Regions from separate parts of the Homo sapiens genome. Here region 1 is linked to region 2. Evidence: fine-mapped expression QTL. A gene starts in region 2. The other region holds a variant in brackets. All regions are shown on one strand. Distances are between the middles of the regions. Region 1 has its middle 29 kb from the start of LINC02517. Region 2 holds the start of ACOX3 (acyl-CoA oxidase 3, pristanoyl).

Region 1 (3,016 bases), 92 kb after region 2:
TTCCCCTGACCAGGGACGGGTGTCTCCTTGCTGTGCCTCTCGTAGGACCCGCGCGTGAGGGGCTCAGCTGAGGTCAGTGGTGAGCCGAGGAGCTTGGACGGAACCACCTCTACACCAGGCAGGACGTGTGGGCAGCCGCAGAAATCTTGCTGCAGTATGCCATGGCTAGATGGAGTCTGCCAACCAGGGAAAAGTCCACTCTTCCTTGCAATATCATTGCATTTTAAATTCTTTAAAAACCATCACCAGGAAAAAAAATTTAAAAAGCTGCGGCTCCCTTCCAGTCCTATTAAATGAGCAAATGCTCTTTCCAGAGATCCTTACTTGCCAATTACAGTAACTGAGGAATTTTGTAAGGTATGCATTTCTTTTCGCATATAGGAATCCTGTATAAAATAACAGAGCACTGAAGAAAGACTCTGAAACTGCCAAGGGAGGTCGGCCCGCTGCCCTCAGCCTCTGGCATTCTGCATGGGATCCTGGCCTCTGGGTGAAATGTGCTAGAGCTGGGCTTCAGAAACGCAGGCAGGTTCCTCCTGGCCCCTCCCAGAAGTGAGGTCAGCATGGGAGAAGCCACTCCAGGGAGGAGATGACCCTCTGCCTTTCCTGAGGGAGAGGAGGTCAGCAACAAAGACCTTGAAGGTCCCGGGTCTTCCTTTGCAAACACAATGCTGTGGGAGTCCTAGCTCTTTACATCCTTCCCTGGAGTGATGACCACACAAGGTGTTACAGGTTCAGTTGCATCCCCCTACAATTTGTATGTTGAAGCCCTAACCTCCAGGAGTGCAGTGGTGCGATCTTGGCTCACTGCAACCTCTGCCTCCTAGGTTCAAGGGATTCTCCTACCTCAGCCTCCCGAGTAGCTGGAACTATAGGTGTGTGCCACCACGCCTCGCTATTTTTTTTGTATTTTTAGTAGGGACAGGGTTTCACCATGTTAGCCAGGATGGTCTCTATCTCCTGACCTCGTGATCCGCCCACCTCTACCTCCCAAAGTGCTGGGATTATAGGCGTGAGCCACCACGCCTGGCCAAGACAGGGCTTTTTAAGAGGTGATTAGGCCGGGCGCGGTGGCTCACGCCTGTCATCCCAGCACTTTGGGAGGCCAAGGTGGGTGGATCACCTGAGGTAGGGAGTTTGTGACCAGCCTGACCAACATGGATAAACCCCATCTCTACTAAAAATACAAAATTAGCCTGGCACGGTGGCACATGCTTGTAATCCCAGCTACTCGGGAGGCTGAGGCAGACAAATCACTTGAACCCAGGAGGCAGAGGTTGCTGTGAGCTGAGATCGCGCCATTGCACTCCAGCCTGGGTGACAAAAGCAAAACTCTGTGTCAAAAAAAAAAAAGTGATTAAGGTAAAGTGAGGTCATCAGAGTGGGCTCTAATCCAGTCTGACTGGTATCCTTATAAGAGATGAGGACACAGACAGTCACAGAGGGATGACCAGGTGAGGACACGGAGGGAAG[G/T]TGGCATCTGCAGGCCGAGGAGAGAGGCCTCAGGAGAAACCAATCCTGTCGACACCTTGGTCTCAGACTCTCAGCCCCCTGAGCTGTGAGAAAATAAATGTCTGTTGTTCCAGCCCCCAGTCTGTGGAACCCCACTATGGCAGCCCCAGTAGACTGATAATCATTCATTCCCTGTGGGATTTTTGTGAGCCCAGCCAGGGACCAGATGATTCCACCTATTTTATTTTATTTTATTTTATTTTATTTTATTTTATTTTATTTATTTTATTTTACAGACAGGGTCTCGCTCTGTCACCCAGGCTGGAGTACAGTGGCACGAGCTCAGCTCACCACAACCTCTGCCTCCCAGGCTCAAGTGATTTCTCCTGCCTCAGCCTCCCGAGTAGCTGGGATTATAGGCACCCGCCACCATACCCAGCCAATTTTTGTATTTTTTTAGTAGAGATGGGGTTTCACCATGTTGGCCAGGCTGGTCTTGAACTCCTGACCTCAAATGATCCACCCGCCTCGCCCTCCCAAAGTGCTGGGATTACAGGCATGAGCCACGGCGCCCAGCTGATTCCACCCATTTTAGATAAGGAAACTGAGGCAGAGAGAGGCTTAGTGGCTCATCTGAGGTCCCTCTGACAGTGGGGCACACCATACCCTGGGGCCAGGTTTCAACTTCTGGTCCAGGCTGTCACCTCCCAGAGGAAAAAATCACACGGTTTAGGGCTGCTGGATGATACAGGATGTTCAAGGGAAGCTGTGAGGAGGCACGTGCAAGCCTGGGAGGCCCAGGGTACAGTTGGGGCCTGATGCAGAAGCCAGCGAACTGCCATCTCACTTCCTCTTCCACCAGCCCTCCAGCCTCCAGAGCCCATCCTCCAGTGAGGACGTGGGCCATAGGAGGTCAGGAGCTGGCATGCAAACTCAAGTTCACCAGGCTCCAAAGTGTACTAGGGTGTCGCTGGAGAGAAACTGCAACCAATTTATGATTTACAGGGTCGTTCGCGCACATTATCTGATACCATCACCTCATGCCCATCACAAGGTCAGGATGAGCCCCGTTTTCCAGATGAGGAGACTGATTTCCAGAGAGCTCAAGTGACCAGCCTGTAGCCCCTGAGTGAGGGAGGAGAGGAGCCCTCGCTGCCTCTGCCCTGGTCTCTGCCCCAAATGAGGAGCTCCCACGGGACTGGGCACTGGGCACTGGGCATGGGGTAGGGGACCTTGCAGTGCTGACACTCAACGCATCAGAAGGAGGTGCTGCACCACCCACCCCCCTGCCATGTGCTACAGAGAACCACAGGCAAGGGGCATGGAGACGACTCAGTGCTGTGGGCTCTGGATGTTCTGCAGCAAACTCCTCCTTCTAGAAGGTTCCTTCCCTCCGCCCTCACTTCTGAGATGGCGCTGAGTCCATGGAGGTACACAGGGAATTGATACCTGGTGCCACAGAACACAGTTGGGTGATTCTTTCTGATTCTGAGTACTTGGGACAGGCAGGGTTTTAAAGACTCAATCTAAGGAGCATGTCAAGGAACAGATTCAAGGTAGGCTT
Region 2 (2,500 bases):
AATGTGGTCAGACATGCAGGCTCCTAGTTAAGCACGCTCCCACTGGTTATTCTCCGACAAGTTAAAGATAACGCTGTTTGAGCACAAAGGAGATTCATTTAAACCGCCACTGCTATAGATGACATGTATGATGCACTGTCTCCCTTTCACCCTTTCGCCCCGAACGTCCGCTTCTTAGATCTAAGTGATTGTACTCAATAGTGTGGAGACCAGAGCTCCCAGGCTTTGGCAGCCTCCATTTTGCAATTGGCCCCCTGGCCCCCAATCTTTATGCACTCTTAACCTGTCTCGTCTCATTCCTTCGTCGCCACCGGACTTTGAGTACCCTACGGGTGGTGTTGAGGCTGGTCCCCAACACTTTTACACCTACAGCTTTACCTGCTAAACTCCTAGGTATTACGCAATATCCAGCTAGTCCTTCACTGTCTCTTTGAAGCCTTCCAGACACCACCCCAATCAATTATCCCATCTTCTGTACTAAGGACACACATTTCTATGCGCCCACTCAAAAAACTATGAAACACCTAACAACCTCCCTAGGACATCGCAGAGGAACTAGTACCCTTAGGACTTTTTCATTGACCCGAGGTTCTATGAATGCTTTTTTATCTAATCATATCCGTCCACTATCAAAACACTCTTACCTTGCACGACTATTTCCCTCCTGGGAGTTGTAAGGGGGCAATGTGGGCTAGTTTTCGGGATGACGGTTCTGAGAACCACGTCGAGCTCACGCTGCGCCTCTGGCTGCGATCCCGCCCCGGAGCTGGTGAGGAAGGCCAGCAACTCCGAATTGCCACGGGCGAGACTTTGGGAGAAATCCTCCCAAAGCGAATCCAGATCTGCGGCGGGGAAGTCGCCCTCCCTTCCTTCAGCATGGCCGGGGTGCCCGGAGTCCCTCAGGGGCACTGAGGCGGCTTCCCTCTGTGCCTCCTCTTGCTGGCACTGGCCCTGGGCCTCCTCAAGTTCGCAACATGCCGTGCCCTGCTCGGGTCCTGATAGCGACCTGGGACCCGGGCCCCCTCCGGGGGAACCCTGGCCGGGTCCCGGACCCCGCTCCTTCTGCTCCGAGCCTGCGCTAGTCCCGGGGCCGCGGGCCTCCGCGCAGGGCAGGGCGGCGCTCCAGCGGGCCTCCAGGCGGGCGCCGCAAAGCCGTTTGTTTGCCACCTGCGGCCTCTCCAGCCACACTTCGACCGCAGCCCAGAAGCCCTGTGGGAGAAGCGCGCCTGGGTAGCTGATCCCGGTACGGCCCACCTCAGCCATGGCAGCCAGCAGGTGTACAGCCCTGGCAGCGGCGCGCCGAGATGACGCAGCCCGGTGGCGCGGCGCGTTGACGTCATGGAGGCGGGGTGCTGGGACCGGAAATGAGAATGGCGCCGCTGGAGATCCTTTCCTGCTTTTGGTTTCCCTGGCAGGGGTTGAACTGTGGAGTGTGTGGGTGAGGAATTTGACCTGTGTTTTATTCCCTTTTGAGAGAATTCTGGGCGTGGTATAGTTACAGAATCAAACATCAGCCAGCCAGCGGGTGTGGAACGCATTGTCCTCAGTACTGATTACCGATAAAAGTCAGGGAGCCTAAGTTTGTGAACGTAAAAGATGAGTCCTCTTATGAAAGCTAACTTTTCTCCACTTGGGTTCTGGTTTGCTTTTAGTGCTGGCATTACAGCCAGTGCCTTCCTAAGTCTGAGTGCAGCCATGGCTGTTTCATAAGAATGATGTAACGTTGTCCCATGAGGGATGAAAGTCATCTGTCACCTACTGTAGCAGGACAAGCCACAGACAAAACTCCTCAGACACCGGATTAAAGAAGAAAGAGGTTTATTCGGCCGGGAGCATCGGCAGACTTGCGTCTTAAGAGCTGAGCTCCCCAAAAAAGAAATTCTTGGCCTGTTTAAAGGCTTACGACTTTAAGGGTCCACGTGAAAGGGTCGTGATAAATTGAGCAAGCATGGGAAACGTGACTGGGGGCTACATGAATCAGCTAACAGAACAGAAAGTTTTGCAATGCTTTTTTCATACAATGTCTGGAATTTACAGATAACACAAGTAGTTTAGGTCGGGGGTTGATGTTATTATTATTATTTTTTTTAACTCCTAGGGCCACGTGGTGGTGCCAAGGTTGTCTGGCTATTTATCTGACTTTTGTTTCTTTCTAACTTTTTGCTTTCTCTCTTTTCCTCCTGTCTTATGAACTAGGCAAGGTGGCAGGGAGGAGGGCAGCAGGAGTAGTAGTGGTCTCCTTATCCCTTCCTTTGAGAATTTTCACAAATTAGTGGGAGTTCTCGCTTTTATTTTTACTTTGAGTCTCTTTGGGAGACAGAGTGATAGTGTTTTATGTAATACACTTGCAGTGAGGGTTTTAAATTCTCTTATAGCTGGAAACTATCTTTTAAATAAAGACCTAGGATCAAACCTGTGTTAAACCAGTACAGGCACATGTGCCAACTTTGTCATGTCCTAAGCAGGTTAGTTTTTTTACTGGGTCTTAAAAGCTTTTTTC

The links.
Region 1: its variant is fine-mapped to the expression of ACOX3 in tibial nerve (GTEx, PIP 0.98).

Annotation. Positions count from the first base shown.
Region 1 is chr4:8,347,517-8,350,532 of GRCh38, reverse strand. No RefSeq gene overlaps it. Among named protein-coding and RNA genes, the nearest start is that of LINC02517, 29 kb to the right of the region's middle. The variant G/T (reference allele first, on the strand shown) is at 1,474.
Region 2 is chr4:8,439,586-8,442,085 of GRCh38, reverse strand. It overlaps ACOX3 (acyl-CoA oxidase 3, pristanoyl), which reads left to right and starts at 1,363. Exons shown (of 18, transcript NM_003501.3): 1 at 1,363-1,438. It overlaps TRMT44 (tRNA methyltransferase 44 homolog), which reads right to left and starts at 1,309. Exons shown (of 11, transcript NM_152544.3): 1 at 645-1,309. The coding sequence starts at 1,263. RefSeq lists silencers at 896-955, 1,006-1,215 and enhancers at 684-1,417, 1,236-1,475.